Linked DNA regions of Homo sapiens: regions 2 and 3 are each linked to region 1. Evidence: fine-mapped expression QTL. A gene starts in region 1. Each other region holds a variant in brackets. All regions are shown on one strand. Distances are from middle to middle. Region 1 holds the start of FRAT2 (FRAT regulator of Wnt signaling pathway 2). Region 2 holds the start of ANKRD2 (ankyrin repeat domain 2). Region 3 overlaps RRP12 (ribosomal RNA processing 12 homolog).

Evidence for each region.
Region 2: its variant is fine-mapped to the expression of FRAT2 in visceral fat (GTEx, PIP 0.98).
Region 3: its variant is fine-mapped to the expression of FRAT2 in whole blood (INTERVAL, PIP above 0.99).

Annotation. Positions count from the first base shown.
Region 1 is chr10:97,330,408-97,338,580 of GRCh38, forward strand. FRAT2 (FRAT regulator of Wnt signaling pathway 2) reads right to left here and starts at 4,322. Exons shown (of 1, transcript NM_012083.3): 1 at 2,090-4,322. The coding sequence starts at 4,165. The coding sequence ends at 3,464. It overlaps LOC105378448 (a long non-coding RNA gene), which reads left to right and starts at 4,439. Exons shown (of 2, transcript NR_188201.1): 1 at 4,439-4,564. RefSeq lists enhancers at 3,033-3,940, 6,478-6,996 and silencers at 3,491-3,540, 3,551-3,680, 4,021-4,170, 4,261-4,410, 4,541-4,890.
Region 2 is chr10:97,566,564-97,574,736 of GRCh38, forward strand. It overlaps UBTD1 (ubiquitin domain containing 1), which reads left to right. Exons shown (of 3, transcript NM_024954.5): 2 at 1,351-1,578; 3 at 3,575-4,643. The coding sequence ends at 3,960. ANKRD2 (ankyrin repeat domain 2) reads left to right here and starts at 6,216. Exons shown (of 9, transcript NM_001346793.2): 1 at 6,216-6,312. The coding sequence starts at 6,226. RefSeq lists silencers at 208-297, 8,169-8,173. The variant T/C (reference allele first, on the strand shown) is at 3,111.
Region 3 is chr10:97,359,024-97,367,196 of GRCh38, forward strand. It overlaps RRP12 (ribosomal RNA processing 12 homolog), which reads right to left. Exons shown (of 34, transcript NM_015179.4): 26 at 8,018-8,109; 27 at 7,719-7,886; 28 at 7,423-7,598; 29 at 7,085-7,210; 30 at 4,831-4,880; 31 at 1,523-1,595. Among named protein-coding and RNA genes, the nearest start is that of FRAT2, 28 kb to the left of the region's middle. The variant T/C (reference allele first, on the strand shown) is at 3,398.

The DNA of each region.
Region 1 (8,173 bases):
TGTGTAGGCTCAGACAGGTGACAAGGGTGTGTGAGAAGAGCATTGTGTGTAGGCTCAGACAGGGGGCAAGAGGACCAACTTAAGTGCCCTGAGTTCTGATTCTGCTCTACCACCAATAATTCCTTTCACCATTGTAAAAAGCAAAGTAGGGCCAGGCACGGTGGCTCACACCTGTAATCCCAGCACTTTGGGAGGCCAAGACAGGTGGATCACTTGAGGTTAGCAATTTGAGACCAGCCAGGGCAACACGGTGAAACCTCATCTCTGCTAAAAATACAAAAGTTAGCTGGGAGTGGTGGCGGGCACCTGTAATCCCAGCTACTTGGGAGGCTGAGGCAGGAGAATTGCTTGAACCCAGGAGGTGGAGGCTGCAGTGAGCCAAGATCATGCCACTGCACTCCAGCCTGGGGACAGAGCAAGACCACGTCTTAAAAAAAAAAAAATGCCAGGTGCCGTGGCTCATGCCTGTAATTCCAGCACTTTGGGAGGTCAAGGTAGGCGGATCACAAGGTCAGATCGAGACCATCCTGGCCAACATGGTAAAACCCCGTCTCTACTAAATATACAAAAATTAGCTGGGTGTGGTGGCATGCTCCTGTAGTCCCAGTTACTCGGGAGGCTGAGGCAGGAGAATCACTTGAACCCAGGAGAGGGAGGCTGCAGTGAGCTGAGATCACACCACTGCACTCTAGCCAGGCGACAGAGCGAGATTCCATCTCAAAAAAAAAAAAATCTTGTAAAAGGTGCCAACCAGGGTGCCTGCCCTAACAGGGATCAGCTCCATCTCTACCTAGGAAGTAGAGAAACACTCAGATCTTGTAGGTCTTTTCCCATTGTCTGTAGTCCTTATCTATAAGATGGAAAAATAGTGCCTACCTCGTGGCACATAAAGCCATGTGGTAGTACCAAGAATGAGCAGCTATCACTTTTTGAGCAATGAAGTCTCCCCTTCAAGTCCTCATTTAACCCTTCCAACTCCCCTATTAAGTACTATTGTTTTACAAATCACAAGGGAAAAACTCAGAGTCTTGACTTGCCCACCATGACACAGCTGGTGAGCAGAAAGGGCTGAGGCAACTGAGCATCAGCCTTCCTCTGCAGCCCCAGCCTCGGGAGTGTGCTGAGCAGGAGAGGTTCCCCGGGGGCTGGGTTAGTAGAGCTGGGCAAGGAAGGGGCAAGGCAGGGGCCAGGTGTGGTGGCTCACGCCTTTAATCCCAGCACCTTGGGAGGCCGAGGAGGGCAGATCACTTGAGCTCGAGTTCAAGACCAGCCTGGGCAACACAGTGAGAACCCATCTCTACTAAAAATATAAAAAATTAGCCTGGCATGGTGGTATGAGCCTGTAGTCCCAGCTACTCAGGAGGTTGAGGTGAGAGGACTGTTTGAGCCCAGGAGGTTGAGGCTGCAGTGAGCCAAGATCGTGCCACTGCACTCCAACCTGGGTTACAGAGTAAGACACCATCTCAAAATAATAAAATTAAATTAAAAAGAGAAAAGGGCAAGGCAGGAACTAGGAAGGGATTCAGCAAGGGCTCTATGCCTGGGAAGACAGGGCAGAGAGAGAATGAGGAGAGGAGGAGGGCTACTTCGGTCAAATCTAACCCCTGAGTGCTCAAACCAAGCCATTTTACAACTACCAAATACACTGCTGTAAAACCCTGTTTTTCTCTCCCAAGGCCATAGCTCAAGACTAGGTCAGTCTCAAAGGGGAAAGCAGGCTGGCTTCGCCTGTGCCCTCCCCATTTTGCACAAAAACGTCCAGATGAAAACCCACCTCCCTCCACCACAGCACCTCTTTGCTCTCCAGCCCAGAAAGCATTTCTAGAATACATTGTCTTTCCACAAAGGGAGTGGAAGCCCATCTTGCAGCTTCTAAAAACCTGGACTCAATTTTCTGATCTTGTGGAATAAAAACTTAGAAGCACTCAAGTCCTGTGGCTCTACTAGGATTCTGTGCCCATCAGCATTGGCCCAAACCATTTGTCCAGGTCCCCCCCCCCCGGTTTAGCCCAAGTGCCCTCTTTATTAAGGACATCCCCATATGCTTTTCTGCCCCTCTCCCACCTTCCACCAAAATGCCAAACCGTGCTCCAAAACAAAAGCCAAATTTATTCAGCAGACATTTTAATTATGAAATCCTATAAATCAGGACCACCACAATTTCAGACACTCCGTTGCGAAGTGTACATCAATAGCTACATCTGGAGGATGAACAAGCCATTGAATCTTTTAAAAATTGGTTTAGCTACCTTAAAGTTTGGGGGTGGCACCTTACAAAAGCGCCGTCAAGTTTCATACAGCCAGCGGCTTCTTCTCTGGGAGAGTCACATTTTAAAACCGGTTTCAGACACAAAAGAAGGGCTGGCACGGGAGGAGGAAATAAATTGTGAGGGTGAGGAGCCGCCGAGGCCGAGGCCCATGACTCCATGGAGGGCCAGAAGAGAGCAGAAAAACGTCCAGGGTCTCTCATGCATTCCTATAGACACCAGAAAGGGTGGAATAAGAAAGCTCAGCTGGGAGGACAAGAAAGAGACTCAAGAGATCGTTTATGACTGTTTCTGAGAAAGCTCCTGGCATGGCCATGAGTGGCCTTCCGGGAGTCCTGTAAAAAGGAAAGCACAGAAAACAGGAAAGAACTCTCCCTACACGTCCCTCTCTGCCTGTTTGTGTCCTCGGGAGACTCCAAGCGGTGGTAAAGCACCAACAGGGCTCTTCTTGGAGCAAGAGAAAGAAAAGACTCCGGGGTGAGTAAGCTCTCCCAGGAACCCCACAGCAAACCGTGACCTTGAACACAGATGGCAAGGTCAAGTCATTTACAAGTCCACATTCAAATCCAAATCTCCCACCTGCAAAATTCTTCACCTCTCTCCAGTCCCTTAATTGGAGTTCACATCTCCCACCTTCACCAGCCACCGAATCGGTGGGAAAAAGGGGCAATGCCAAGCCACCCACCACCAAACTTTTACATTCTTCTCCCCTCTGGAATTTCTTTGCACAGCAATTGTAGCACCACTTACTAAGCTCCTCCACCAGAAAATAAGAAAATGTATGCGTGTCGTTAGTTTTCAAGTATTGTTATAAAGCCATCGCGATTCCTACCCCTGAGCCCTCCTTAAACAATCCAAGCTCACGACGCCCCCAAGGGCTAAGTGAGGTACAAGTCGATGCAAGTAGCTGCCATAGTTCTCCCAGTTTATCCCAGGTCCTTGGGCTTGGATGGCCCGGGAAATTCTCATGCCCCACGGAAGCACCCTGGCGCATACATTTCTCCACGCTTAAGTTTTCTCCGACGGCCTCGCCGCGGCTGGTAACTTCTCTGGTTGAGATCTCTCCCCACGCGCCTCCCCGCAGCCAAAGTGGTCGCTCCCAGGCTGGCGACGTCGGCTTCAGCTCAGAGTTAGTAGGAACTGGACGCTGTTGGGTCTACGCAGCGGCCTCCACTTCCTCCTCCAGGAGGCCTGCGTCAGAGCAAGGAGCCTGAGGGCTGCAGGGCAATGCGGTCAGGTCCGCTGCGGCCTCCCCCGGGCCCAGGGGCGCTTGCGGGGCCCGTGGCTGCAACCGCGGCGACGGCTCGTTGGAGTCTCCGCACGGCTTCCTTGATGAGGTTTCCCGAGAGCACGAGCTGCTGGAGGAGCCGATGCGGGTCGTCGTCGCCGGCGCGTGCCCCGGCTTGGGTCCATCGGCGCTGCTGCAAGCGGCGGGAGGTGACCGCGTCCCTGAGCCATCCTCGCCGGCACGGCCCCGGCAGCGCGCTGGGGCCTGCGGCGACCTCCGCCACGCAGTAGGGCGCAGCGCGTCCGCGCACGCGGCCGCGGTCCCCTAGGGCGCAGCGCAGGGCCCCAGAGGGCGCCGGGCCCACCGTCTCAGCCGAAGCGGGCGGCAGCAGCAGCGGCACCGCCGGGGGCCGGGCCTTGTCCGCCGGCACCGCCGCAGCCAGGGGCCCCGGGGCCCGCAGCGGCACCCCCGGGGGCGCGCACGGCGAGGCCGGGCTGTCCTGCGCCGCGTCCAGCTGCAGCGTCTCGCCGATCTGGGCCACCAGCCGGTCCACCTCGCCCGAGCTGCCCAGCGTCACCGACTGCTGCAGCAGGAGGAAGCTGTCGTCCTCCTCTTCCTCCCCCTCCGCCTCCTCGCCGGCTTCCTCTTCCTCCTCCCTCCGGCACGGCATGGCCCCCCGTCCTGGCACCCGGAGCTGTGCGGGCTTCGCTGGGGGCTTGGTTGCCCGCGGGCGCGGAGCTGCGGGCGAAGCCGGAGCAGGGGCGGACGCGGAAGCCGGAGCCCGCCAGGCACTCGAGCCACGCGCCTGCAGCCGCTGGAGCCGGAATCCTGCCGGCTCGGGTTGATTTGTAAACAATGGGTGACGTCGCGCCGGGCCCTACCACCGCACCGGGGCGGGGGTGACGCGCGAGCAGGCACGGGGGCAAAGGGCGGCGCGGGCGGTGACCGAAGCCGTCCCGCGCCTGTGTTCGTTGTCCCTCCAGGAGGGGGTCCGGGGCGTGGGGACTGATTTCCGACCTCCCGGGCCCAACGAGCCGTGCTGAAACGTGGCGCCTCGGAGGAGGCTGAGGTTGGTTTCTCCCACGCACGGACACACCCACACCCACTCCGGGCCCGCCTCCTGGGCCGCGGCCTCCCTCCCCACGTGTCGGCCGCGCCTAAGCCCGCCCGACTCCCGCCCCGCGCACCCGCAGTTCCCGGCCCTGGTCGTGGGGGAGGGGCGGGCCGCCGCGGGTCCGGCTTCGACGAGGCGGGGCGGGGAAAGGCGGAGGGAATTGGGAGTGAAGAGGCGGCACGTTACTTATTTACTTATTTATTATTTAGAAAAGGTCTCTGTCGCCCAGGCTGAAGTATAGTGGCGCGAACACGGCTGACTGCAGCCTCGAACTCTGGCTTAAGTAATCATCCCACTTTAAGCCTCCGGAGCAGCTGGGACCACAGGCGCGGCCACCACGCCTGGCTAATTAAAAAAATTTTTTTTGTAGAGACGGTGGTGGGGGGGGGGGGTCTCACTATATTGCCCAGGCTGGTCTCGAACTCTTGGGCTCAAGGAGTCCTCGCTCCTCGGCCTCCGAAAGTGTTGGGGTTACTGGCGTCAGCCGCCGCGCCCGGCCTAAGAGGGGACGCTTTGAAGCAGAGCAGAATCGCTCTGAGGTGAGGTCCCAGAGGCTTTCCCTCCCGCAGTCTTCAAGCCCCCGGACATATCATGAGAATAGGACTCACCGCCGCTCGGCTAAAGAAGGGTCTTTTTTTTTTTTTAAGGTTCAAATAGAAATATAGGGGATTGGCCAGGAGCGGTGGGTGGCTCATGCCTGTGATCCCAACACTTTGGGAGGCCGAGGCGGGCGGATCACCTGAGGTCAGGAGTTCCAGACCAGTCTGGCCAACATGGTGAAACCCCATCTCTGCTAAAAATACAAAAATTAGCCGGGCGTGGTGGCGGGCGCCTGTAATCCCAGCTACTCGGGAGACTGAGGCAGGAGAATGGTTTGAACCCTGGAGGCGGAGGTTGCAGTGAGCCGAGATCACGCCACTGCACTCCAGCCTGGGCAACAAAGCGAGACTCCGTCTCAAAAAAAAAAAGAAAAATATAAGGGATGGAAAAAATCTCTCATGGTTCACATTTAAATTTTTTTCCTTTTTAGCCTTTGTTCTATGAAAGTGTAGTATACAAACACATGCATACAGTGTTACACACTTTTCCACTTTGCCTTACATCATAAACGTTTTTCGTGTTATTGCATGCACTTTGAAAACATTTTAATGATTACATAAGTTTCCATCAAGTGCCTATGTTTTTAACATTTGCCTAATTTCACCATCGTTAAGTGTGTAACTAACATTTTTGTGCGCGACACTTTAAGATATTGATGATTCTTTCCTTAGGGCATATTCCCAGGAGTGGAATTTTAAGTCACAGTAGTTGGGTATTTTAAGGTTTACTGATAAATGTTCAGGAAGTGTCTTTCCAAGAGTTAGGTAAATGTACTCTACCATCATTAATGCTTGAGCATACATCATTACACCTTCACTAGTATTTGAGTATTATTGAATTTTTTTTTTTTTGCGGATTATATAGGGAAATTTTCTCCCTTCAGTTTGCATATCTTTGATTTCAGTTAGGTAGAGCAGTTTTCTAAATGTTTGTTAACAAACTGTACTTCCTTTCTTATGAATTGTCTATTTCCTAATAAGATTTTCCTAGGGAGTGTTTCTTACGTATTTGCATGACTCCTTTACATACCAAATGTTAACCCTTTTCATATTTTGCCGCAAATACGTCTCCAGGCTTTTGTTGGCTCTGTACAGTCATTTTTTCCCCCACTAAAACCAAATTTTCATGTAGGCAAATTTTAAAATCTCTTTGAAATTTCTAACACGATGCTAAATTTGGAGTCTCCTTGCTGCCAGAAAGTTATTAAATATTCCATTCTATTTTCTTTAGATTTTTCAAATGCCTTGATTTTTTTTTCAAATCCATCTGGGATTAATGTTGGTCTTTGTTTCAAGGAGATGACATGAAATTAATTTTTTCCTGGAGAGCTTGCCAGCCAAAGGTGTGTTTCTTCACTAGGACAGAGGTGTGAGGGTAGCATAAACACAAGCTGTCTGGTGAGTTTCCAGTTGCTGGTTAAGCTGGTGGTTGTGAGGAGTGGGTGGGGCTGGGAATGTTTTGATCAGTCTGTTGTGTGAAGTCAAAAGAACCCAGAACAGGTTGTACAAAGACCTAGATCCAAGTCTCATTCCTGCCACATCCTGGGTGTGGGACTCCAGGCAAATCAGTTTACAAGTGTTTTCACTTGTAAATAGGAGAAATAATCCCTGCCTGGCCTCCCTCTGAGGATTGTTTTCAGGATCAAATAAGATAATGGGAACGGGTGTTGTCAGGCATTACACAAATGTAGGATTAGGTCCAGCGGTTTACTAACAGAGGTCTGGCTCAATTCCAGCGAGTCCCCCCTGGGGAGCATTTAACATAATAATGTTGAAGATCCCCCCCATGCAGCCCACTAGGTGAAACGTACCCTGAGGGTATTACTTCTGTGCACTTGCCAGGTTTCTTAAATTCTGCCTCAGGTCTACCCTGACCTGGGATTGTGTAGGGCTTTACTGAAGTCAGCCCGGAGGCTCCCATGCCCCACAGTGAGTCTCCGCAACTAGTTCTGCAGGTTTGAGTGATGGAGACTTTCCCAGTGGGCAGCCTCCCACCTCCATCTCCCGAGGGCTGTTCACACACTTTACTGATGAGGACTGGAAGCCATTCCCCCCGGAGAGACTGATTCTCATTTTCATTCCGATGGTACTTACTGGAGAATTTCGAGAGGAATGAAAATTAGGGGAGGGCTTACGGATTTCAGTAGAGTTAAAATGGTAATGTTTTCCTCCTTTCTGTATGATGATGCCTGGCTGTAAGTAGAGAAAAGCAGTTTTATGCTCCATTGATTTTAAACATTAATGGGTCTGGTTTAACTATTGTCTCTCACCCAGCATCCCTGGAAGTTGTTTTTGTTTTCCTGTCAGGGTAATTCCAATAGTGTTCTTCGTACTATAGGAAATGGAGCTTTGAGATGGCATTCTTTAAAAAAAAAAAATCTTCCCTTTGTAATGTTGCTTTTGTGTGAAGATTGCTATGTAAATATGCTGGGACTTGGATATTATACTATTCATTACAGAGATGAATTCATTACAGAAGACCAGCTCCATTTTCTGGGGGCACCTCTCTGGAGAGCTCTGAGAGAGAGAAGTGCTGTGCTGGACCAGTGGGAGGCAGAGAAATGCCCTGGATTAGGAAGCAAAATACAAGATGCTAGAAAGACTCAGATGCAATTAAAAGTAATGAGACGGTATCAAAAAGGGAAGCGATGAGAACTTGTGAGCCCAGCACACTGGCTCCCTGCCTGGAAAGACACACTCTCGGACAGCATTCACAATCGCCCAGGGAAGAACAGAATTCAAGGGTTTTCTGCATTCACTTAGATTGCGTTGAAATTCTCTGCAAGGAGTTTGCTTTCCACACAGACCTTGTTTCAAGTTACCTGCCCTCAGAGACATTAGCTACAGTACAGTGGGATGAACACTAGGCTTGGGAATACCACCTGGATGGGGTCACTTTATCCTTCCGTGCCTCTGATTCCTCATCTGTAAAATGGGGGACGGTCCCTTCTTTATGAAATGGTTA
Region 2 (8,173 bases), 240 kb after region 1:
TCATATCACCTGTGAAATAGCAATAATAATACCTACTGCCTAAGGCTACTGCAAGAATGAAATGGGATCATGTATATAAATAAAGGCTTGCCTGGGGTTCTTTCTCAGCGGAGATCGCTGCCTGCAATTCTCTTCCTTGCTTCCTTTTGCCCCAGCCAGTGGGAGCAGCCTGGTGGTGGCCCCCAGCCTCAGTTCTTCCACTCACTGTAGGACCTGAGTTATAGTGGAAGCAGAGTGCTTCACATCTCACTCCTGTGGCTCACTCTGCCTTTAGTTTTGAGATGACTGAGCCTCCAAAAGCCTTTGAGAGATACCTCTGCCCTCAGTCTTGGCTGTGGTTTGGAGTTGTCTTGGAGGTCACTTGGAGCTGGGTAACAAGAAAAATGACATTTGACAGAATTGTTTTCTTTGTCAGATGCTGCAGGAATTTTTGGGGGAGTTTGTTGGTCATGATTGCTTAAAAAATCCTTTTTTTAAGTGGGACATTAGTAACAAGATGTTAAAATTGTTAATAATTTTTTTTTTGAGACATGGTTTCGCTGTGTTGCCCAGGATGGAGTGCAGTGGCATGACCACAGCTCACTGCAGCCTCAACCTCCCAGGCTCAAGTGATTCTCCCATCTCAGCCTCCCAAGTAGCTGGAACTAGAGGAGCGTGCCATCATGCCTGGCTAATTTTTAAAATTTTTTTGTAGAAACAGGGTTTTACCATGTTGCCCTGGGTGGTCTAGAACTGCCGGGCTCAAGCAATCCTACTGCCTCCCAAAGTGCTGGGATTACAGGCGTGAGCCACCGCGCCCTGCCCCACATCATGTGGGAAGGGTGCGGTGGCTCACGCCTGTAATCCCAGTACTTCGGGAGGCTGAGGCGGGTGGATCACGAGGTCAGGAGTTTGAGACCAGCCTGACTAACATGGTGAAACCCCATCTCTACTAAAAATACAAAAATTAATCAGGCGTGGTGGTGGGCGCCTGTAATCCCAGCTACTCGGGAGGCTGAGGCAGGAGAGTCGCTTGAACCCGGGAGGCGGAGGTTGCAGTGAGCCGAGGTCATGCCATTGCACTCCAGCCTGGGCAACAAGAGTGAAACTCCATCTCAAAAACAAAAAACAAAAAACAAAAACAATGGTAGCGTATGCTTTGCTGACACAATTATTTTATGTCCCTAGGTTGGTTATGTGAAGTTTTCTGACTCTTCCCTGCTATTTAGGAAGGGCTTCAAAGACCTGAATACTTAGTAGCCAGTGCAGCAGGGTTTCAGGGTCTGGCCTGGGGAGGGGAGGGGAGGGGGAGGGCAGGTTGCAGCTCAAGTGGCTTTAGAGATGCTGAGCCTCTCCTTCTGTCCTGCCCAGGACGCAATGAGCCCCTGAAGAAAGAGCGGCTTAAGTGGAAGAGCGACTACCCCATGACTGACGGGCAGCTGCGGAGCAAACGGGATGAGTTCTGGGACACAGCGCCTGCCTTCGAGGGCCGCAAGGAGATCTGGGATGCCCTCAAGGCTGCCGCCTATGCTGCTGAAGCCAACGACCACGAGCTGGCCCAGGCCATCCTGGATGGAGCCAGCATCACCCTGCCTCATGGTAAGTGGGCAGGGCCAGGGCTTTATCCCCGCTGGAGCTAGGGGGTCACCAGCACAGTTTGAGGGTGTTGAGGAGTGTGGAGCGGTGGGGCAGGTGGTTACTCACGTATTCATTCATTCAAGCACCCCTTACTGAGCATGGACCAGGAGTGGGTACACAAAGAAAAAGAGACACAGTCTATGCTTGCCTAATGACATGACAGAAAGACAACAAACCTGCAAAGCAGTGTCACAAATGCACTTTGGGACCCCAGAACATCCAAGGCACTGACCTTTTTATTTTATTTTTTTTTTTGAGATGGAGTCTTACTTGCTCTGTTGGCTAGGCTGAGGCTCAGTGGTGGGATCTCGGTTCACTGCATCCTTCACCTCCTGAGTTCAAGCAATTCTCCTGCCTCAGCCTCCTGAGTAGCTGGGATTACAGGCATGTGCCACCATGCCTGGCTAATTTTCGTATTTTTAGTAGAGACGGGGTTTCACCATGTTGGCCAGGCTGGTCTCAAACTCCTAAGCTCCAGTGATCCACTGGCCTCAGCCTCCCAAAGGCACTGACCTTTTATTGGGTTGTTATGTGCTGGACACCGAACTAGAAACTTCCACTGCATTAGCTCACGTAAGTTCATAGCAGTCTTATGGGGCCATGTAAAGCAGAGGGTGACAGTGGAGCCCTAGAATCACAGACTTGAGTTTCTTTTTTTTTGAGACGGAGTTTCCCTCTTGTTGCCCAGGCTGGAATGCAGTGGAGCGATCTCGGCTCACCGCAACCTGCGCCGCCTGGGTTCAAGTGATTCTCCTGTCTCAGCCTCCTGAGTAGCTGGGATTACAGGCATGCGCCATCACGCCCAGCTAATTTTGTATTTTTAGTAGAGACAGGGTTTCTCCATGTTGGTCAGGCTGGTCTCAAACTTCCAACTGCAGGTGATCCGCCCGCCTTGGCCTCCCGAAGTGCTGGGATTACAGGCGTGAGCCACTGCGCCTGGCCACAGACCTGGGTTTCAGTCTGAATGTTTCCCTTTCCTAACTGTCTTGGCTTTAGCAAGGAGCTTCTCGAATTTAGAGCCTGACTGCCTTACGACTGTAAAGGGGAGATGATTATTAGGATTCAGTAAGATACACATAACATCATTTAGTCCAGTCCCAGCACTTAGTAGGTGCTCAAGAGACAATAAACATATTTCTCCATGCATTACGTTTTGCCAGTAAGGACACTAAGGCCCATGGAGAGCAGAGCTGTGCTATTTCATTCATCCCTGTAACCCCAGCACCTGGCACATGTGAAGAAGTGAAAAATAATATGCCAGGATGAACAAGCCAGTACCTGGTGGAGCTGGGATGCCAGCTCAGGTCTTCCTGACTCCAGCCCTGTACACCTGGTCATCAGGCTGTCCTAGGGAGATCTGACTGTGGGGTGGCCATGGCAGGTGTATTAGTCTGCTCAGGCTCCTGTAACAAAATACCACATGCTGGGTGACTTAATCAAGAGACATTTATTTTCCACAGTTCTGGAGGCTGGGAAATCCGGCATCATGGTGC[T/C]GGCTGGTTCAGGTTTTGGTGAGGACTCTGTTGCTGGCTTGCAGGTGTCCGTCTTCTTGCTGTGTCCTCACATGGGGAGCGAGTGGAGAGTGAGATAGTGCTCTAGTGTCTCTACAAGAACTGTAAGCCAGGGCAGTGGAGCACACCTGTAGTCTCAGCTGCTCGGGAGGCTGAGGTGGGAGGATTGCATGAGCCCAGGAGTTCGAGACTAGCCTAGGCAACATAGGGAGATCTTGTCTCAAAAGAAAAAAAAAAAAAGGACCATTTTTCCCATCAAGGGGTCAGAAGGTCAGGGCCCCACGCTATGACCTCATTTAACTTTATTTATTTCTGTATAGGCCCCATGTCCAAATACAGTCACATTGGGGGTTAGAGTTTCACCATATGAATTTGGGGGGACCCAAACATTTAATCCATGATAGTGGATCCCCAAGCTGACTCTGACAGCCCTGCCTCTCCTACAGGCACCCTCTGTGAATGCTACGATGAGCTGGGCAATCGCTACCAGCTGCCCATCTACTGCCTGTCACCGCCGGTGAACCTGCTGCTGGAGCACACGGAGGAGGAGAGCCTGGAGCCCCCCGAGCCTCCACCCAGCGTGCGCCGTGAGTTCCCGCTGAAGGTGCGCCTGTCCACGGGCAAGGACGTGAGGCTCAGCGCCAGCCTGCCCGACACAGTGGGGCAGCTCAAGAGGCAGCTGCACGCCCAGGAGGGCATCGAGCCATCGTGGCAGCGGTGGTTCTTCTCCGGGAAGCTGCTCACAGACCGCACACGGCTCCAGGAGACCAAGATCCAGAAAGATTTTGTCATCCAGGTCATCATCAACCAGCCCCCACCACCCCAGGACTGATGGGCCCACGGACCCCTGGGAAGAGGCCCCGCCTGGAGCACTAGGCCCCCACCCTGCTGCTGCCTTCCAGTGCTGTCATTTTCTTCAGGGGCCCTCCCCTCGGTGTGGCTGGTGGGTGAGCCGTGAAGGGACCCTGCCTTTCAGGGCACTACGCGCCACCAGTTCCCGGTACCCAGGGAGCAGGCAGCCACACACGGGCCTTGCAACCTTGTCAGAGAAAAGGCGAACAGGGCCCTCACCCTGCCTGTCTCCCGAAGCAGGTTCGAGCCACAAGGGCCAACCAGGAGGCCCCTGGAGCCCAGATCTGTCATCTGGTGCTGCCAGCTGTGCTCACTCTGGTTTTCTGCTCAGGGTCTGAAGCAGCTGCTGTCTCCCTCCTCTGCCCCCATCCCCTGGCTCTCCCCTGGGCACAGTGCCACTCCCTTGGAAGGGAGGGAACCACCCGTGAGCCCCAGGGCTTGGGAAGCCTGAGGCGGGCCTCTGCCTCTCCCTGCCCCCAGCACAATTGGCAGAGATGAGGCGGGTGGTGGACAGCTGGGCTGTCGTGGCAGGGTCTGCACAGGGCCATGTCCTGGCTGTAACCCAGGCAGTGGGAGGTCTGCAGCCTGGTCATGGCCTCCACAGCAGGTCCCTGTGGACAGACATATCTGCATATTTATCAATAAAGCCTTTTGCTCCTTCTCGCTTGCCTGGCATTTGACTGAATTCTCCTGCAGCTCTGTGGGGCCCCTGGAGCTGTTCTGGTATGGGAACAGGTGGATGCCTGGCCTCCCCAGCTGCTCTGGGCATGCAATCTCCAGCAGAGTGAGCCTGGAACTGCCAGTCTTCTGGGCCCTGATCCCAGCTCCCCTGGTGTCCTCATGAGTCCTCAGGAAAAGCCACTCTTTGCTTTTCTTTAAAGCAGAGCCATGCTGCCTGCCCTGCCTCCTCCATCAGTTGCTGGGAGGATTAAGCAGGAAGACAGATGTGAAAGTGCTTGCAAGGCGAAGACAGCACCTCAGGAAGGTGGTCTGCTCCTGCAGCAAGAGGGGCTAACTTCCGGCCCTGGAGACGCTGTAGCCATCGTGATGTTAAAGCAAAATCTCTGACAGATTTAGATCGTGTGTCAGAGGTTTGTGTCAGCTTCCCAGCAAGGGAACCAGAAAGGAAAAGGAACCGGTTCCTCATGCTTCCTAGGGGAATGCATGCATATCTGAAGAGAAGGGAATCTTATATAAGGCTGTTTAGCTAAGGGCAGCCACCAGCCAGGTGAGCCTTACAGAAGCACAGGGCTGGGTGTCTGCAGTTCCCTAGCAGATTAACCTGGGTCACAGTGACTCAGAGCTCCAGCATGCGAGTTCCAGGTGTGGAACTGAGCAAGTACAGATCTGCTTTTGCTCCACTTGGGAGTATTTTTCCTTCTTAGTGAGCATGGGCAGCCTCCTGGCCAGGGAAGTCTGGCACTGTCTGGGCCTGACAGGGAAACCCTGGGAGGGTAGAAGGATCCAGAGTAGCTGCTGTTCCTCGCTAGCTGGGCTTAGTGCTTTCCGGAGACCCCTTTCTTGAAGCAAGACTCTGTAAGCCCTGCAGAGGTCCCCTGAGCACTTACCAAGAGAGGAGACAGATTGGATAAGGTTTGTTCATGACTAAAAGTCACCCAGCCAAATGCAGTGATGCTTAACGGGGAAGCATGTGGGACCCCGGAGAGCCGAAGGCCAGCGTGAGCTGTGATCAGAGAGGGAGACAGCTGCCCTTCCTGCTACCACGGCCCTGGCCTGGACAAGTAGAGTGTGACCCTCCTCACAGCCAGCAGGGCCTGTCTGCAGGACAGCCTGGGAGTACAGAACTGTCCTGGGTCCCCCGTTTGGTTTTCAGGCCCTCTTCCTGGAGCTGGCTGAGCAGGGTTTCCAGGCATCCAGCAGGTGGCACTGTCATCTGGGCTGGAGCATGCAGCCAGCAGTTCCCTTTTGCAACTCAGTTGCCTTGGCTAAGGCCCAACCAGTCCCAAGTGCTCAGGACAGAGGCTGGACGGGCTCCTTCCTGCACCCCTGCTCTTGGGACACAGTGCCCTCCGGCTCTAATAGGCCAGGAGTTGGGGGGGCAACTGGCTCTGCTCCCTGGCCCTGGCTCCCCCTGCTCCCTGGGGCTGCCCGAGGTGAAGGTGACAGGTGGGGGAGGCAGGTGGAGAATTGGGCCAGTGAGCTCATGGCAAAGGCGCCCAGCTGGGCAGGGGTGGGTGCTCTGGCCTATAAAGCCCCCGAGGCCCTGTGGCCTGCAGAGGCGGTTATGGACGGCACCATGGAGGACTCCGAGGCGGTGCAGAGGGCCACAGCGCTCATCGAGCAGCGGCTGGCACAGGAGGAGGAGAATGAGGTGCGAGCAGGGGTGGAGGTGCCCAAGGGGGTCTGAGGAGATCCAGTTCTGCTGTCAAGGGGAGGGAGATCCTGTCTGCTACACCTGTGGTGGGGAGGGGGGCAGATGTCCCCAGGGGCCCAGTTGGGCCTCATTCCTGTCCCAGGGTATTACTGGCAGGGGGTATTGCTGGCAGCAGAAGACTGAGGCTTCAGCCTTCAAAATTAAGTCAGTGAGATGGGGAGCTGGGCTGGGCTTCCTAAGACTGCTCACCCTCCTGGGCCTTGAGAGACAGTGGGCTGTACAAAGCAGACAGCTGGGTGCTGCCTGGGACTTTCAGGAATGTGTGGCCCTGTGATGCCCCAGTGACTGAGTGGGAGGCTGGGGCAGGGGAAACTCCAGTATTTGGCCAGTGAAGAAGAGAGTGAGGAAGGGATGCTGGGAAATGAAGCATGGATTTTGCCAGCCTGCTGGCCACCCTTGGGGAGTCCTTTGGCGTGTGGTGTTCTGGGCAATTGCATTTTCTCTGGGATAAGGAAGTGGAGCGGTGGCAGGGGGTGCTGGCTTGTCCTATTCTGCATTTTTTTTTTTGAGACGGGGTCTCCCTCTGTTGCCCAGGCTGGAGTGCAATGCATGATCTTGACTCACTGCAACCTCCGCCTCCTGGGTTCAAGCGATTCTCCTGCCTCAGCCTCCCGAGTAGCTGGGATTACAGGCATGCACCACCATGCCTGGCTAATTTTTGTATTTTTAGTAGAGATGGGGTTTCACTCTGTTGGTCAGGCTGGTCTCAAACTCCTGGCCTCAGATGATCCACCCACCTTGGCCTCCCAAAGTACTGGGATTACAGGTATGAGCCACCATGCCCGGCCCCTACTCTTCACTTTATTTAAACTAATACTTCATCTAGTGTTGGCTCTGCCAAGAGCCCAGAGCTGTAGAAATGGGTGGACCAATAAGGGTCAGACCCTGCCTTCTTTTTACCAACCCAGGATTCATTTTAGCCCATTTGTTGGTTTCATAGTCAACTAAGAAACAAGGCAAAGGGAAGAAATGACTAAATAGAGGTGTGAATCAGAAGTGGAGGAACACAAGGGGCTCATGAATTGTTCTGAGGGCCTTCAAGGACTCCTCTGTGGACAGGGCCAGGTGCAGTGGCTCAAGCCTGTAATCCCAGCATTTTGAGATCTGAGATCCGAGGTGGGCAGATCACTTGAAGTCAAGAGTTCGAGACTCACCTGGCCAACATGGTGAAATCCTGTCTCTACTAAAAATACAATTAGCCAGGAATGGTGTCAGGCACCTGTAATCCCAGCTACTCAGGAGGCTGAGGCAGGAGAATTGCTTGAACCTGGGAGGCGGAGGTTGCAGTAAGCCGAGATCGCACCACTGCACTTCAGCCTGGGTGACAGAGGGAGACTCCGTCTCAAAAAAAAAAAAAAGGGGACTCCTCTGTGGACAGGAGGATACCTGAGCTGGGCCTTCAAGGGGACTCAGTGGAGTCCAGGATGGTGGAGGGTATTCCAGCCTCAGGAAATGCAGGAGCTGAAGTTTCCATGAGTGAAAGCGTGGCTGTCTTGATAAAGTCTGGTAGTAGGGGCTAAGGCTGGAAAGACACAAGCCAGAGAGGGCCATGTAAAAGATATTTATTCTGTGGGCAGTGAGGAGCCACTAAATGTTATTGAGTGAGGGAGATTGGTGTCATCTGACCTATTTTAGGAAAGCAGCTCTGATGGCCCTGAGAAGGACTTGTTGGAAAAGGCTGGCCCTAGCAGGAATGGAGGGGAGGAGATAAATCAGGTTGGAGGTAGATGCCATTCAAAAAAAGGAGTGTGACTGAATGAGGGGTGAGGAGGAAGGAAGGGTCAAGACCCCAAGGGAA
Region 3 (8,173 bases), 29 kb after region 1:
ACAGGACCATGAGTCAGGCAAAGCCAGGGCAGCCCCCTCCAGAAAGGCAATGGGCACCCTCTCTGAGAGAGCTGCAAGGGAGCAGATGAGTGAAGGCCAGGAACTTGGCTCTGTCCCCTATCAAACCAGGACAAAGACCTTCCTCGAGGAGGGACTGTCTGGTGATTTGACAGTTAGATCACTGGGCTCCTCAGACTGACCCAGAAGCCTTACAGCTTACCAGAGACCTCTGGGAACACATATATTCTCCGCTAACACACTAACAAAAAATAACCCATATTCTCCAAAGTCAGACAGAATTCAGCCAGCCAGCCAGCCAGGTTCAACTCCCAGCTCTGCCACTTACAGCTCCAACCTCAGGCAAGCCTCTTAACCTCATCTGTAAGAGAAGCCATTTTAGGCTTTCCCTTCTTATCTCATTTGGGTTTCACACAAACACTGAGATAGCAGGTAGCTATTTAACCCATTGTAACAGATGTGAACACTGTGGCTTAGAGAGATCAAGATCCTTGCCCAAGGTCAGCTGTCTTCTCCAGCCTGGACTTCAACATTCAACGACAAGTTGTGGATGGAATCCTACCATGCCAGCTCAGGAGGACTCTCTGAGACGACCAACACGAACCACCCCCATTCCTCATGTTTTTGCAGATGAGAAACTAGAAGCTCAGAGACAGACAGTGTAACCAGGCCAAGGTCAAACAGCTAAGCAGAGGTTGGGCAAGCAGCCCTGACCCCAGGTCTCTGCCTCATCAATTGGCAGGTACTCCTGCCTCAGCATCACTCCATCCCAGGGCACAGTAGGTGAGCTGGCCCTGGCTCATGGGTGCCACAGGCGGAAGAGCCATGAGGTTGTGCAGCTGCGTTATGATGCTCTAGGGCTGAGGACACACCAGCTACTGGAATCAGAGGCTTCCCACAGGAGCCCCTGGACCTCCAGATGCAAAGCAAGGGCTCTGCTGCAAGGGCTTGGGGGCAGGGGTCCTGCAAGGCTACCCTGGGAGGAAGGAAGCAGAGGTGAAGCCACCTTGGCACTTCTAGCAGCTGCTCTAGGAGGGCAACAGCTGGTGGGCCCAGAGATAGAAATAGAGGGGAACCCTCTGGCCAGACCCAATACCAACCTTCCCAGTTCCCAGCCCTGGCACCGGCCAAGTGGCTTCTCTAAACCCAGCCTGACTCGGTTGGTGCTCTTAGGGTGACCAAGAGAGGCAAGCAGCTCGCAGAAGGGACAGACTCAAGCCTCTTGGGAGGCCTGGGCGGGTGGGAAGGAGCTGTGGCTCAGGGCTCCTCAGAAGGCTGGTGGTTCCATGCACAGATCTCCTAACCCATAGGCTCTCTCACACCCCCAGGGCCCCTTAGACTCCAGGCCCATCTTGAGTGTCATATCAGCCAACCTCTGTTGGTGCCAAGTGAGTGCAACCAGGCTGTGCACCCTCATGGCCCTGCCACCCCTTCCTGTGACTCCCCTCCCTAATGCAGGTGACAGGGATCCATGTGTCCCAGGAGAGAGGAGTGGAAGCCTCACCTTGGTACTGAGGGGGTATCTCCAGCTCCTCCTCCTCAGCCTCTTTCTGGTGCTTGAGCTTCTGGTGCTTTTTCTATAGAGAGAGAATAGGTGGGTAGTGAGTGAACCAGGGGATGTGCCCACCCTCGGGAATGCCAACAGTAACAGCAGAGTACCCTGCATCAAGCAGGAGAGGCCCTCTGCTAAGCACCCCACCTCTCACTTACAGATGGGGAAACTAAGGCCCAGAGAGGGCAAGGAACTGTCCAAGATCACAAAGCCAGGCAGTGCAGAAGAGAAGCTCTGGCCATGTCCTGACTGCCGGGCTGGTGGCGGCCGTTCCTGCTCTTCCTTTCCACTCTGGGCCCCACCCAGGCCTGCAATTGCCCAGAGGGCTTCTGACATCAGCTTACCCAGCCTTCCTAATGGGGAAAATGAGGTCCCTGGCCTCTTCAGAGAGAATAGCTTTACCAGTTCTTTGCTTCACACAAACCCCACCCCACTCTCCCTATTAATCACTCACTTACTGATCCCCTACTAAGTGCCAGGCCCTGGGGACACAGGGCACAAGATCTAGTTCCTGTGCTCCACGGGCTCTCAGGCGGGTGGGAGACCCCTGCTCAAGCCAGTCATCACTGATCCTCAACAATGCTACCATCCCAGCAGGTATGATCATGGACAGTAAGACACGTCAGCTCGTCAATTATATTCAACAGGAAGTGACAGAGCACCTACTGTGCGCCTGGCACTGTGTTAGGCAGTCCAAGGGAAGGAGGGAGAGCCCGACAGCGGCCCCAGCCCATCAGATGTGAGCCTAGAACCAACAACCAGGCCAGGCAGAGGCGTGCTGTGCAGGGAGGGCAGGCAAACAGAGGTGGCCCCAGCTGGCAAGGCTGGTCCCTGCACTGTGGTCTGTGCCACTGTGCCCCAGAAACCTCTAGAAACTGCAGATTCCCAGGGCTCCAGCTACCCAGGGGATCCAGAGGCCAACCAGGGGAAAGGTATGCCAGGTAAAGGGATCGGCCTGGGCAGAGCGAACAGGCTGCAGCACACACAGGGTGTGCCTGGGAGACGGGGGACTCCAGGTCCACTGGCCGAAGCCCAGCTGAGTGGGCTCCTAGTGGAGAAACAGGAACCGGGAGGAAGCTGACTCCGACTGCAATGTAGGGGATGATGGCTGAGCTGGCTCTTGGTTCAGCTGGTGCTTGGCCAACAGCCCAGCCTGCTGGCCCTGAATGGAGGCAGCTACTTGAACCCCAGCACTTCATGCTTCCACAATGGTTGGCCGAGGAGTTAGAACTTGGCCGGGCCCGGTGGCTCACGCCTGTAATCCTGGCACTTTGGGAGGCTGAGGTGGGTGGATCACGAGGTCAGGAGTTCGAGACCAGCCTGACCAACATGATGAAACCCCATCTCCACTAAAAATACAAAAATTAGCTGGGCGTGGTAGCATGCACCTGTAATCCCAGCTACTCAGGAGGCTGAGGCAGGAGAATCACTTGAACCTGGGAGGGGGAGGTTGCAGTGAGCCGAGATTGCGCCACTACACTCCAGCCTGGCGAAAAAGTGAGACTTCATCTCAAAAAAAAAAAAAAAAAAAGAGTTAGAACTAAGTGCCATGCAAGAAACCCTCTGGGGGTCTCAGTGGCAGGAGCCAGCCACAGAATGCAACTGCCCTGGGGCCCTCTCAGTGCCTGGAGACAAGGCATCTGCTCAGTCCCGCTCTGCCCGGGGCAGTGGGGGACATCCTTAGAAAGCCGTGGTCGGTTCTCCCCGGCCAGGGAGAGGAGTAGGCTGCCGAGGATCTGCAAAGCCACATGTGAAGATGTGCTTAAGGAACCCAGGAGGCTTTGAATGGAAAAAGATTTCCAGGAAAAGTGAATAATCAAGTCACAA[T/C]GGCTTACTTTGCATCACTAAGTGGCAAGCACTGTACACAGAAACAAAGACTTGAGCCCAGGCAGTCTGGGCCCAGACACACGTTTGGCAGACGACTGCCATCACCTGGAGAGGGAGACTAGACTGGCCTGAGGGTGGCCTCTCGGAGGGGCCCATGTCAGACCAAGCAGAGGAAGGACTCCCAGTAGGTGAAGCTGTCCCACAGGAGTGGTTGCCTGGGCGCAGAGAGGGGCAGGAGGGTTTTCAGCAGAAGCCCCACTGCTTTTCCTCAAGGGCATCCCAGAGGGGCTTCCCGCATCAGAGGCTGCTCAGGTCCTCAGCTACTCTCTGACCCAAGACTCTGGATATGTACTCAGCTCTTCAAACAGAATTCTGCGCTGTCACAATGCTCTAATAACAAACTCCTCCTCGGGCCACACTGGGCAGATGGACACTTGGCAAGGCATATGGGCAGACATTGACAAACATGACGCCAATGAAAACGGGGATGTGGGGGAAGTCTGTAACACTTCAGGCACTATGCTAATGCACTTTACACGCCCAATCTTACCAAACTGTCCCAATGACTCCACCAGGTGGTCTATTTATAACCCCACTTTACAGATCAGGAATTGAGGCTTTAAAAGGTTAGGCTGAAGCCAAGATGGGACCCCAGAGTCTGCCGCTTCCCCACCGATATCACTATACCCTGATGTAGGCTCTGTCACCTACGGGTGGTGCCCAGGAAGGCTGGATGGGCTGGGGCATAGTCTGGAAGGGCAGAGAGGGAAGAAACTGCTCCAGAATGGAAATGTTCCACTGAGCTTGAGACTGACAGGTGTTGGGTGATGGGTTGGGCCCACTTCACCCTTGTTGGTTCAGGTGGGGCAGCTGAGAGGCTGTTTCCATCCTGGCAGGCAGCACTGCCAGGTCAACAGGGGTAATGGTGGCAAAGAGGTTGAATTCCTGGGCTTAGGAGACTGGAAAACCAGGGTTCAAATTCCTGGTTTGCACAGACTGAGTCCTGTGACCCTGGGCAGGCTACTTACCTCTGTACGCTCCTCTGGTCACTGGGACAACGGAGTCCCTATCTTCGTGAGGCTATGTGGGGCCCTCAGCACAGTGCTGGGCACACAGCCATGCTCCCCTACGGTGGATGCCCCCACCCCATGCAGGAGCACACAGGGAAGCTGCTGCCCTTGCCCCTGCATAGCACATGCCCTCGCTAGAGAGACAAGGGTCTCTGCCTTCTTTCTCCTTTAACTAGACAACCATCACCCTGTCCTGCCTGGCACCCACAACCTTCTGGACCGCCTGCTATGCACACCTGTGAGGATGCACCGAGCATTCCAGAAACAGGGCAGTTCCAATGTCTACGTGTGGTGGGGGTGAGAAGCTGTGGAGCCCAGGCTTAGGTCTGAAGCCCTAGCCCCCCATCTGCAGGAACTACTCACATTCCTGATGATCACATCTTCCATTGGGTCAGCCATCTCTTCATCTTCGCCTGGAGCCAAAAAAGAGAGGCCCATGAGCGCTGTGGGAGCTCCTCAAAACCTACCCTTTCCTTCTGCCCCCTCCTGGCTCACCAGGCTGCGGGGCCACCAACTCCGGCCCCAGAAAATTGCCTTCCTCAGACCAATATCATCCTTCTGCTAGAAGAGATGAGACCCCTGAGCACTGCCCCTTTCTCCTTCCCACCCTAGGCCCTAGGGATAACGGCCCCTCAAAGAAGCGGTGATCCTACTTTTGAGGTGAATATGGCTTCGTTTGAAACTTTTCTTTTCCCACTCACCCACCCTTCATCTGTTTGAGATTTGAAGAAAGCCCCAGGTTTCCGGGGGAGTCAGGCGCTCCTGCAGCCCCATACACACCCCCACTGTGCCAGGAAGGCTTCATTCTCCTGTTTGAAATCTCTGCCCCATGCAGTATGTGCTGGGCTCCATGTGGGAATATAAAGTATGAAACTGACCAATTGGAGGGAAGAGAAACTCAGGCAAAGTCAATCAACAACCAAAAGACGATAGAGAGCACGTGACCGGCCATGTGTGGTGGCTCACACCTGTAATCCCAGCACTCTGGGAGGCCGAGGAGGGAGGATCACCTGAGGTCAGGAGTTCAAGACCAGTCTGCAACATGGCAAAACCCCATCACTACTAAAAATACAAAAATTAGCTGGGCATGGTGGCGCACGCCTGTAGTCCCCGATACTTGGGAGACTGAGGCAGGAGAATCACATAAACTCAGGACATGGAGACTGCAGTGAGTCGAGATCGAGCCACTGCACTCCAGCCTGAGTGACAGAGCGAGACTCTATCTCCAAAGAAAGCACATGACCAAGGGCTGAAGACTGGGTTTCCTCTGGGCTTGGCAGGAGTTCTGGGGGAATCAGGCCTAAAGGCTGAGGTGCCCAGGAAGGGCTACAAAAGGAGCTTTGAGCTGAATCCTGAAGAGCAGGGGGGTTTGGAAAGGCAGAGAGAGAGGGGAGGGGTCCTGACAGCCTCAGGAATGCCTGGGCACCAAGGGGGACAGGAGATGGGAAAGTATACAGGGGCGAGAGAGGAGCAGAGAAGACACTAGACACGGAAATATAACAGGCACATGTACACCAAGTACATACGCTGTCCCCATTACACCGATTCATCTTCATTCCAACCCGGAAAAGTGGGTATTAGGATTGTATGATATCCACTCTGAAGCAAGGAAACGGAGCTAAGGAGAGGCTGACCGAGCGGCTGCAGTCGTGTGGCTGGTGAGTTGGGTGCATGTGGAGCAGTGAGGCTCCAGTTAGGAGGTGCAGTGAGACAAGGGCCCAGAGCTCGCAGCACTGGGAACCAAACAAAGGGATGACAGGTGTGTTCTTGAAGACCTAGGTGTTTTTTTTTTTTTTTTTTTGAGACAGAGTTTCGCTCTGTCACCCAGGCTGGAGAGCAGTGGCACAATCTTGGCTCACTGCAAGCTCTGCCTCCTGGGTCCACGCCATTCTCCTGCCTCAGCCTCCCGAGTAGCTGGGACTACAGGCGCCCGCGACCACGCCCAGCTAATTTTTTGTGTTTTCAGTAGAGATGGGTTTTAACCGTGTTAGCCAGAATGGTCTTGATCTCCTGACCTCCTGATCTGCGCGCCTTGGCCTCCCAAAGTGCTAGGATTACAGGCGTGAGCCACCACGCCTGGCGAAGACCTAAGTGTTTCTTAGCTAATGGCTGGATATGTGGAGAGGGGCCAGGAAAGACTAAAGAGAGCTCCGAGATGCCACACCGGAGGGACTCCCGGGCAATGTGAGACATTGGGATTGGGAAGTTGGGAGGGTTTCAGCCTCTGGCTCTTTCTGCCTCTAAATCATCTTCAGGGCCTTAGCCAAGTTTGCATTAAAAAAAAAAAAAAAAGAGGAAGGAAGAAAAGGAGAAAGGAAGAGGAGGGGGAGGAGGAGGAGAAAAACAGAAGAGACTAACAGCGTATCACACACAGTAAGGGGAAGTACCATTTCCGATAGTTTCCTTTAAGTTAAATATGTATTGTATAAATGGCTCGGTTACAACATAAAAAGATTTCTTAATGTTTCTCAAAAAAAGTTTGAGAAACTCAAAAAGTTTGAGGAAGCTGCCGAGAGAAGAGTTTCTCTGGTCTGTTTTTAGCCACGCTTCCTCAGCAAGTGATCACCGAAGGAATAAGTGAACACGGTGAATGAATGGACAAGCGCGTTGGGCCCACCTTTGGCACCTTCCTCTTCCTCCATCTTGTTGCCGTCTGCCTCCTCCCTTATGATCAGCCGGCCATCGGCGCTCACCTTGAAGCCGTGGTCCTTCTTCCTGCCCCGGCCTGGCCCTGGCTGCGTGGCTGGGGTGTAGAGTTTGGCATGAGGAGGTGGAAGGCCAGTCCCATGCTACTCACCCTCATCATGACCAACAAGCCCGGCTCAGGGATCCCAAACGGGCGCCTCTCAGCCCTGTCCATGGGCCTGCCATGGATGCCACCCCCTACCCACCACCTGAGAACCTGGCACCATGGCAAGTCTGTTTTCTGAGTGCACTGGCCAGCCCTGTGCTTACCCAGGACTCGTTGGGCCACCTTGGGATCCAGGAAGTTGAGGGGCTCGTCCCCACCGCCCTCTTTCAGCCATGCCCGGCTCCTCTGTCGTGCCAGCTTCCGCTGCTCCTTGCCTCGGCTTCTTTCCTCCTCCTCATTGTCCTCCTCGTCCTCTGAGTCAGCTAAAATCTCCTCAATGCTAAGGACAAAAAGCCCCCAGTCAGAGTGCTCCCAGGAGAGGCGGGGGTCAGCGGGTATTGCCTGGGCAGGCCCTTGGGTTGGGGGGACACCGGGTCCCATGGCCCTAACATGGTCTCACCTGTCACCTTTGCCCTGGGCGGGCTCCTCCTCCTCCTCCTCCTCTTCTTCCTCCTCCACGGCAGCCTGGCTCAGGGCTCGGTGCCTCTTGGCCCGGGCCTCAGCTTTCCGGATGTTGACCAGGACTCTGTGGTACTCCTCGGGCAACAGCCTTTTCACCAGCTCAAATCTGGAGGTGGCAAGGAAGGGCTGGTGAGAGGCACTGGCCAGACAGCACGACCCAGATGTAGTGTCCCTGGTAGGACTGGAAATCCTCGGCCCCTCGCTTGCCCTACCCCCGCCCCTGCTCAGTGCACAGACCCAAACTTGCGGATGAACTTGGTGAACAGGTTCCGAAGCTTCATGCGGAAGTGCCGCCGCATGTCATCTGAAAGCTTCCCAATGGCTTCCATCTGCCGGACAGAGCACCAGGCTTTCAGGGAGGCGAGCCTTCCATGCTGCGCCCCCTTTACTGCT